Linked DNA regions of Homo sapiens: region 1 is linked to region 2. A link means that fine-mapping ties the variant in region 2 to the expression of a gene that starts in the linked region. Tissue or cell type: B cells. Region 2 holds a variant in brackets; the other region holds the start of a gene. All regions are shown on one strand. Distances are between the middles of the regions.

Region 1 (5,000 bases), 210 kb before region 2:
CTTTCTCTCTCTTGCTTTCTTTCCTTTCTTTCTTTTTCTTTCTTTCTTTCCTTCCTTCCTTCTTTCTTTCTTTTCTTTCTCCTTCCTTTCTTCCTTCCTTCTTTCCTTCCTTCCTTCCTTCCTTCCTTCCTCCCTCCCTCCCTCCCTCCCTCTCTCTCTCTTTCTCTTTTTTTCTTTTGGAGTCTTGCTCTGTTGCCTAGGCTGGAGTGCAATGGCACCATCTCAGCTCACTACAACCTCTGCCTCCTGGGTTCAAGCGATTCTCCTGCCTCAGCCTCCTGAGTAGCTAGGATTATAGGCATGTGCCACCAAGCCTGGCTAATTTTTGTATTTTCAGAAGGGATAGGGTTTCGCCATGTTGGCCAGGCTAGTCTTGGACTCCTGACCTCAGGTGATTTGCCCACCTTGGCCTCTGAAAGTACTGGGATTACAGGCGTGAGCCACCATGGCTGGTCTCTTTCTTTTTTGAGACAGGGCCTGGCTCTGTCACCCAGGCTGGAGTGCAGTGGAAAAATCTCAGCTCACTGCAAGCTCTGCCTCCCGGGTTCACACCATTCTCCTGCCTCAGTCTCCTGAGCAGCTGGGACTACAGGTGCCCACCACCATGCCCGGCTAATTTTTTTGTTTTTTAGTAGAGATGGGGTTTCACCATGTTAGCAAGTATGGTCTCGATCTCTTGACCTCATGATCCGCCCACCTCAGCCTCCCAAAGTGCTGGGATTACAGGTGTCAGCCGCCACGCCCGGCCCCAAGAATAAATATTTCAAGGCAAAAGTTACAATAAAGTTATGTGCAAAAGCTATGAAAATGTGAAGATGGGAGCACTAGAGACATTCCAGGGAGGGCAACATTTGAGATGGCCCTTTAGGAATGAGTAGCAATTTACTAGCTAGACAAGGAGATAAAGGCAATTCCAGGTAGGGGAATGGCTATGCAAAGACACAAACATATGCGGTGGTAGGACGTGATTTGAGAATGGGTGTGGTTGCCTAGGATATTCCAGGTAGTCAAGAGATGACAATGGAAGGGAGGGAAGCCAGGGTTTGAACAGCAGCAACAGTTACAGAGGTGAGCATTTCTGGTACTTTCTAGACACCTGATACGGAAACTATGTTACTTATATATGTTATCTCATTTAATCCCCGTTATTATTATTTTTATAGGTAAATAATGTAATTTAAGTTTTTCATTTTGCATGTCAAATGTGAAAATCTGTAAGAGTAAGTAACTTTGATTGTACAACACGTAAAGATCCTTGAAATTAGTTGTAATTAAAAATATTTTGCTCTTTTAAAAATGGGAATTAAACTTTGATTTTTTGTTCTAATTAAAAATGACCATTTTCTTTTTTAAGAATAAAGATATTAGACACTAGTGAACTCATATAATTGCTTTGCAGTTTCCATGGTTGAATATTTTGAAAGTGAAATAAGTTTTCCAGTTTTAAAGTACGGTGTGAAATAGAAGTATTTTATAAGAAATTAGATTATTTAGAATATATAGAATAAATTATATTGTGTCTAATATTAATCGTCATTCCTGTTGATAATCTCAGTTTATAGGTTAAGTGACTTGGCCAAGGTCATGGAATTGCAAGTGATAAAACTTATATTAAAAATATGGGGCAATGATTGTTTGCTTGGCTGATTCTCTCCCTCATCCTTGCTTTAAGATCAAGGATATTGTAGTTTTGCTCATTTGATACCTGTCTGTGACTAACATGCTAAAGAGTTTAGACTTGATCCTCAAGTTAATAAAACCAATGAAAGCTGGACAATAATATGGATATGAGTAGATCATTGTGGCCAAAGGATTGGAGAAGGGGAGCTTGATTGGAAGGGCATGTTAAGAGTCTAGGGGAGATGATATCAACTTCAACAAGTCAGGGATAGTGAGGATAGGGAGGATTGAATGTAACTGATTAATATCTTAGAGGCGCAATAGACAAAACTTGGAGACTGTGCACATGTTGCAGGGTTAAGGGTGAGGCCAAGGCAGGGGCTTGGGCAGCTGAACAGATTGTGACACCAGTGGTGAAAATAGAGAAAACAGGTGAAGGAGCCAGCTGGGTGTTAACGAATGATTTTGGTTTTAGATACCTTAAGATATGATCCCTTCAGAACAATAGCTTGGAGATCACCGTCATCAAAATATCCACTTGCCCAAATCTGTAGTCCCCAGGCCCCTGGAGCAAGGCCTGCTGCCCTGGGTGTCTTGGCAGTTGTTCAAGCACGACTGGAATCTGGCTTAGCATTAGGCCAAGTGAGCACAGAGACTTGCACTGCTGCATATTTAAAATTACTTGTCAGGAAAAGGAGCTACAGAGAAGAGGGGCTGTGACAGGGGAAGGCAAACATCCGCACCGTTCAATAATTCAGCGCAGAGCCGGTCTTGGCTGCTAAGTTACCACCACAAGGAGCATTTTTAAAGTCAAACCGAATTTCCATGAGAAGTCATGCCTGAGCAAGCTGGATCGTTGCCAAAAGACAAGAGAAGACTCCAGACCTTTCTGTAAACAGGCCCTGAGAGATACGGGGTACTGCATGATAAAGCTGTCAGTCTGGTCGCAGCAGCCTGGCATGTGACTCATTTGCATATGTCACTTCCTTTAGCGTAATCCAGTCCATGGGCCTCTAACTTCCAATCCTGTGGGCAAATAAAGCTGTCCAGCACAACCTGTGACGATCAGATTCAGGCTGTATTTAGTGGGGGAGGGATCTGGCCTCATATCCTTCATCTTTATGCTGCTCCACTCCAGCTCACAGCCCCTCCAACTGGATGGAGCTCTTCGAAGGGAGGGGCATTTCAGAGGAGGGTCTCAGGGATAGCCCCTTTGTGGGGCTGGGCCACCAGGTTGGGGAGAGTGGAGCTGCTGGAACTCTGGAGGGACTGGCTGAGCCAGCTTTCCCAGTGCACCCCTCTGGGAGGGCAGGCTCTCGGTGTAGGCTGCCCATCTCCTCGCTCTCCTCTGGCACTGCTCCTATGCCCCCTTGGTTAGCCTGGGAGCCCATACTACCCAGACTTGGGGTCAATAAGCAGAGGACCTGTAAGGAGTCCTTGATGGGATGTACAGCACTGCCCAACCCTGCACAAGGTAGGGTATTGCTGTTTGTTGTGTGGTGAGCTGCCTGCTTATGGCTGGGTTTGGGCCTCCATCCATTTTTATTTTCTTTGAGTTGGTCTCTGGGCAAAGCTTCTCCCAGCAGGCGGAATCTGGCCTGGGGGCTCCAGCTTCTCTCACCTGCCTGGCCTCCCAAGAGCTAGAGAGCTCCACATCTCAACTCATCTATAACTCATTAGCAGAACCATCAGCTAGCAGAAACTAGGAATAATAAAAATGTGCCGTATTTTCACAAGCTGGATGCCAGGCTTGGTGGTCAGGACACAGACTGCTTTCAGCTCCCACATGCCCCTCCTGCTAGCTGCTTTGTGCAGAGTAGTGGCTACATGGCTGCAGGTGAGAGCCCTGCCTGTGAACAGGCCACCAGGATGCTGGGACATACGAGTTGGTAAGTTCGGCTTTACAGACCCTTCTGCCATCCTCCCTCTGCCCTGCCATTATGTAATTCAAAATAAAAATGATACTAACACTTAAAACACAAAACTGATATAGATGCTGAGATTAAAATGATTTCACTTGAGATATCTAGATTGTAAAATTTCAGTTCAGTTCTCACTGAAGCCAAACATTTTTCAGTTTTGTGGGAGATGCCTGCTGGGCTGGGTCTCCAAATCCGTATTTCAGCTACCTATTGAGTCATCCAGCTCTGCACCCAAGGGCCCCAGACCCCAAGACTGCTTTCTTGCCCCTGCCAGCCCCTGTGGCTGGGCCTCTCTGATGCTGCCTGCCTCTCAGGGCCTGCCCATCCCTCCTCGATTCTATCATCCTGCTTAAGGAAACTCCTCAGACGCTAGCTAACAGGGCGTATGTCTGGCTTCTTCTTTCTCTTTCATGCTGGTTCCCTGAGTTTGGAGGAAACGTCTGGATTCACTCGAGGGCTCCATCCCAGAAGTGACACAGTTTTGCCTGCGCTCTTTTGTGTTTAGATTCCAAATCTTTCCTGATAATGTCTGAATCTCAATTTTAGTCTTGCCAATAACTGGATCCATAGTCATCCATCACACTTGGGGAGTCAGGACAGTGGAGAAAGAAAGTTTAGGAACTCTGGCTTCCTTTGTTCCCTTTGGTGGCTTTAAAATAAGTCCATGCATTATTTGATACTCCTCCCTTCAAGAGATGGAGCTGAATTCTCCTCTACAGTATGGGCTAGACTTAAGAAGTTGCTTCTTTTAAACAGAATGTGGCTTCTTTCTTGCTCTTTCTCTTGGATCAATCATTCTGGGGGAAGCCAGATACCATACTATGAGGACACTCGAATAGCCCTAGGGAGAGGCTCTTATGGTGAGGAACTAAGGCCTCCTGCCAGCAACCAGCAATGGACAGTCATACGAAAAAACCACCTAGGATTGGGAACTCCTGTCCCAGTCCAGCCTTCAGATGACTACAGCCCAGTCTTTTTTTTTTTTTTTTGAGATGGAGCCTTGCTCTGTTGCCCAGGCTGGAGTGCAGTGGCATGATCTTGTCTCACTGCAACCTCCGCCTCCCGGGTTCAAGCAGTTCTCCTGTTTCAGCCTCCCGAGTAGCTGGGATTACAGGCATGTGTCACCATGCCTGGCTAATTTCTGTATTTCTGTTTAAATACCTGTTTAAGTTCATGTATTTAAACATGTTCTAAAAATACAGAACATGTTTCAACATGTTTCATCATGTTGGCCAGGCTGGTCTCGAACTCCTGTCTTAAAGTGATCCACCCTCCTTGGCCTCCCAAAGTGCTGAGATTACAGGCATGAGCCACTGTGCCTGGCCCCCGTCAACATTTTGAGCACAGCCTAGTGAGAGATCCTGCACCACAGCCTGCCAGCTAAGCCACTTCCCAAATCCCAACTTTGTGAGATAATAAAATGTTAACTGTTTTAAGCTGCCAAATTATAAGGTAATT
Region 2 (5,265 bases):
CACAGGTTAGCTCAGGTGATGACCTACAAGGATGCTTGACTCATCCATGGATGGCACAGAGACACCCTCCACAGAGTGTGGCGTCAGCAGCCTGCAATTGACTTCCAACTTGGCCACCTCCTCGTTTTGACTGTGAACTGAAATCTTACAAAAGAAGGGATGGCAAAGGAAAAACTAAACAGAAGGAAGATTTAGAAACAAAAGACAGGTGGTTTGGAAAAAGTGAAACTTATAAAAAGAGTAGTCAAGCAGAGGAATAAAACCAAGATCTTTGCTTCCTTCAGTTCTCTTTTGGTAACTAAGACTTAAAATATGAAGTCTTGAAAATTAGGGGGAATGTGCATATTCTTCATCTTTCTATTATTTTTAAATTTCAATATATGGATTTTTAAATGTTTAAACAATATGTCAGGAATTACAAATGCTTTTGCTAACAAGCTTTGTAGAGCTAAGCTGCCATTATTAGCATCTTGGGGAAGTACTTCCAGTGTGCCCACCATATGTTCCTCTGGAGTGTTTTCTGGTTTTGTTTCTGCACAAGTTGTGTTCTCAGAGCATCCTGCAAGAGATGATATAGAGAATCCCAAGACGATAGAAATGTAGAGATAGGCTAAGATGCCCCAAAATAAATCTTTGCCTGTTCTGTTTGCCCAGTACATGGTGAAAGGCTGTGAGATTGAGATGGAATGGTAGACAGAGCTCAGTTAATAGGAAAAGTTCTGGAGTATGCTGGCAGAAGTGTAATTCAGCTCAAAATGCACCTCCCTCTCCCTTCATTCACGGGCCCTACACCAGTGAAGCAGCTTGAGGTTCTTATCATTCTGACTGGAAGCTCATAGAATAACAGAGGGAAGGGTGTTAGCAGCTTAAATAAAGAATTAGCTGTAGATCCAAGACAGTAGGAAACCAGAAAATAAGAAGTATACTGGGACATCAGGATGGGCACCTGGAGCCGGGCGTCATATGTTTAAAGCCTAGTTGCTTCCTTACCTTGCCTGAACAGGTGGTGGGAGCAAGAATGCTCATGTGTTGGTTACCAAGACAAATAACCCTGAGGCTTCAGGAGTCTGGGAGTTTGAAACTTGAAGATACTAGAAGACAACAGGCATCCAAGCTCAAAATAATGAAACTGGAGTGGAAGCCTCAGACACACCTACCAGCTGACACTGCCTTCACCCTTGCTTGCAATTTGACCCTGAAAATTCAGGGAAATGGGAGTGACAGTTCACCCCTACAGGACAAGAATAGTTTTCTTTATTTTTTAAATAATATTTTTATTTATTTTATTTTTTTAGATGGAGTTTTGCTCTTGTCACCCAGGCTGGAGTGCAATAGTGCGACTCGGCTCCCTGCAACCTCTGCCTCCCAGGTTCAAGTGATTCTCCTGCTTCAGCCTCCCGAGTAGCTGGGATTACAGGCGCCTGCCACCATGCCCAGCTAATTTTTGTATTTTTAGTAGAGACAGGGTTTCACCACATTGGCCAGGCTGGTCTGAAACTCCTGACCTCAGGTGATCCACCCGCCTCAGCCTCCCAAAGTGCTGGGATTATAGGCGTGAGCCACTGCACCCAGCCAAGAATAGTTTCCTAGTGTAACCAACGACTCTTACTCTTTCTGGTTGGGTACAATGAACTCCCTGAGTGGTATCCTAAGATCCACCACCTGAGGCCCCTCATGCCTCCATTAGCAGGAAGACCAAATTTTGTCCCACCAGCTCATCTTTCATGATATTCCAGAGCCCCAGAGGGCTTCCCCCGTACAATGGGTCAGTCCTGTCACTGTTCCCTCTTAGGAAGATACCAGAAGTGTGGACATTCCATCAAAGAGACCTCTTCTCTGCTGTTGTTACCACTGCATGCTGTAACTAGAAGTCAAGCATCTCTGCGCAGTCCTGCTTACTTAAGAAAAACCCCATGTCTTCTTTAGCAACTTCAAGATTCATGTATCAGTGATTATTGGGAAGAACTGACCTCCTCCAGCTTTCCTGGAGCTGCAGCTCCTTCCTCTGTGTTTCTATAGTATGCTTTTAAGCCACACCTCTTTGGCAGCACTTTCCACATAGTCTTGTTCTTTACATTTATCTGCCCATCTTTGTGAGCGCTCAGAACATGTATAGTGCCTAGTTGGTAGAGGGGGTAAATATGGGTTGAATAAATGAATGACTG[A/T]ATGCTACCTTAAGAAATATCTAGAAACCTTGCTTATATTCATACAGACCTGGAAGTGAGTAAAGGAGAAATCTGGGGAGTAAAAGCAGGCTAAAATCTTCAAGTTGCATAAAAAGCGTCAAAAGATGCTATTTAAGGCCTGGCGCAGTGGCTCACACCTGTAATCCCAGCACTTTGGGAGGCCGAGGCAGGCAGATCACTAGGTCAGGAGATCAAGACCATCCTGGCTAACATAGTGAAACCCTGTCTCTACTAAAAATACAAAAAAAAAAAAAAAAAAAAAAAAAGCCAGTCGCGGTGGCAGACGCCTGTAGTCCCAGTCTTAGCTACTGAGGAGGCTGAGGCAGGAGAATGGCCTGAACCTGGGAGGTGAAGCTTGCAGTGAACGGAGATCATGCACTCCAGCCTGGGTGACAGAGCGAGACTCCATCTCCAAAAAAAAAAAAAAAAGGTGCAATTTAATTATTACTTTGATAATTAGAAAGATATATCAGTATTTTTTAAATTAAAGATAAGTGGTTTCTTCAATCCTCTGCAGTTATTGGAAAAGGTGGCTACCATGACTATCATTTTACAAAGCAGAACCTGAGGCTCAGGTTGGTTGAGTGACTTTCCTAAGGTAACCACAGCTAGTAAGCAGTAAAGGTAGGTTCTGCACTGAGGACTACCTGCCTCCACATCTGTTTCCACTAGACCACATTGCTTCCTTCTGGCCTCTCACATAAAGTTATTGATTCATTGGCTGATTCATTCATTCATTTGCTAAGCTCCTAGCTTGGACTAGACACTGCTCTAGGCATTGGGGATAGAAAGATACATAAAGGTCATACTCTGGCAGCACAGAGGAGTAATTTATCCTGCCTGGTGGGTCAGAGAAGGGTTTACAGAACAGGGGCATCTGAGCTAGGTCTACCTCTCTTGATTAAGTCAATTATTCCCTCTTGTGGCTTAAGCTACATCCGATATGATACTGTTACTTGCAACAAGAAGAGTCCTCATACATACTGTGTGGATGTACCCATATTTATAAACTAATCTCATATTGTTGGACATTTAGGTTGTTTCCAAAATTTCAATATTATGAACAAGATTATGATGAACTTTTACATATGCATCTTTGTGTACATGTCCTGCAGGGTCAAAAGTTATGTCTTTGATTTCTGTTACCCTATTGCCTTCCTAAAAGATTTCTCAATTACTATTCCACCATCATTGTAACAGAATGCCAAGTTTTCCCAAGCAGCCTGACTTCTAGTTGCTGAGCTCTGTATTAGGATCAAGATAATTTGCATGAAACTACTTTACAAATAGTTAACTTTTTCTTCATTACAAAGCACAGCCTTTTCCTTAAGAATGGAACAAGTATCATTAAGTGCTTCCTATGTGCCGGGCATTGCACTAAGAACTATATATACATCATGCTTATTAAACTTCACAAGCCTTTGAGGAATGGACTGTTATAATCCCCATTTTACAGAAGAGAAAACTGAGGCTCATAGAATTGAACTAATTTATCCAAGGTCATATGCAGTCAGCATTTGAACTCAGGTCAGATTTCAGATCCTCACTTTTATCATTACTGGTTTAAGTTGAAATGTGGAAGTATGAAATAGTGGGGGTGTCAGATATGTACCTAGTTAACAATACTAGCAGGCAAAGTTAGATAATAGACGCTCTAAATATATAAGTATGGAAGGTAAATGTGTGCCCTTTCTAGAATGACTCAGTCCCAGCTCCATGATAGCAGCTGAAGGTGAAGAAATAAGTAACTGAGAAACAATGATATCCCAATATGTTACCCCTCAATTTCCTTTCTCCCCTCTATGCATATCCTAACTCATCACAAGCGATCCTCACTAAAGAAAGGACTAGAGATGGGGTTCATCACCTCATCCCCATCAAAATTCCTTGGTTTATAAAAACTGAAAAGATATTAAGATTCCTACTTGATTCTTAATAGTAGTTAATTATTACCTAGTTGTTTGCCCAGTAAAGACCAATTTTTCTCCTTTTTGCCCCTTGTTTTTTAAATCCAAATACCAAAAAACCCCTCATTTAATTATAAATATAATCCATTTTTATGCTACTAAAAATTCAAAATGTGAGTCATACACACCAGAGTCAAATAGTTTTCTCTCTTTCTAGCATCTATTAGGGTACTTTGAAAACTGCTCATAAGTCTTCCTCAACTACCAGCTGGTTTCCTGTCTCCTCCCAGACTGGGGCTCAGGTGACCAAGTCCCAAGGCTGTCAGTCAACACAAGAACAGCCTGACTGGGCTGTGGGCCTGTGGCTCTGAACACACCTGCCACACTCTCATGTCACTCCTGTGGGACAAAGCAGGATGTGCTGGTGGGACACTGCCCAGGTGATGTGAGACCTTGTAGCTTCCTGGTGAAGGGATCTGGGAACCATGCCAGTTTAGTGGATTTATGACTGTGGGTCAGCTTCTAAACCTCAGTTTCCTCATCTACAAAATGGTGATAAATGACATTCTCAAAACCATTGTGGGGACTTAATAATGAGATAATGATATTAAACTCTCAGCCCTGCACCTGGCACATACAGTGTTCAAACATGGCCATTGTGAGTGGCTTTACACTGGGAACCAGGAAGGACAATACATCCATCGTGACCCTGTCTTGGATGCTGGAACTGCTATGTCTTCTCTCTGTTCCCTTGGCTCTGCATGCCTCTGTCCTCCAGGAGATGAGCATAAAAACGGGGGAGCACACAGCACCTCTATTAGCAGCCTCAGTGGCATTGCTGGAGAGTCAACCACTGTCTCCTAGGTACATTCTGTCCTCAGTTGCATATTTTCAACCATTACCCCTGTTTCTGCTCATACCATATTTCCTTACAGCAAATTCTTAGTCCTCATCTCACTTGGACTCCTGCATGGTGATGGCATGAGCACTAGAGCTGCAGGATTTAAGAAACGGAGGGAAAATGATGGATTCACATTCACTTGGACATAACAGGCATCTACTTTCATCAAAGCAGAAGGTAAAAGAACATTCCTAGTCTGTTTCAAATTATTTAAAGTGACGTTCTTGTAATAGTAGAATTAATAAAATATTTGCTTATAATTTACTGATCA

Direction of the effects. Positions count from the first base shown, and alleles are read on the strand shown. Sizes are in standard deviations (SD) of each study's normalised expression.
For the expression in B cells of the gene that starts at base 2,727 in region 1, allele A in region 2 goes with a higher level than allele T (large effect, 1.9 SD a copy in Fairfax 2012).

Evidence for each region. PIP is the estimated chance that this variant, and not a neighbour inherited with it, causes the effect.
Region 1: SLEAR starts here. The variant in region 2 is fine-mapped to the expression of SLEAR in B cells (Fairfax 2012, PIP 0.95).

What each region holds. Positions count from the first base shown.
Region 1 is chr8:101,049,328-101,054,327 of GRCh38, forward strand. SLEAR (STAT1 regulated ILF2 complex interacting lncRNA) reads left to right here and starts at 2,727. Exons shown (of 3, transcript NR_033962.1): 1 at 2,727-3,509.
Region 2 is chr8:101,256,011-101,261,275 of GRCh38, forward strand. LOC107984005 (a long non-coding RNA gene) reads left to right here. Exons shown (of 5, transcript XR_928468.3): 2 at 5,029-5,171. Among named protein-coding and RNA genes, the nearest start is that of LINC02844, 4.3 kb to the right of the region's middle. The variant A/T (reference allele first, on the strand shown) is at 2,166.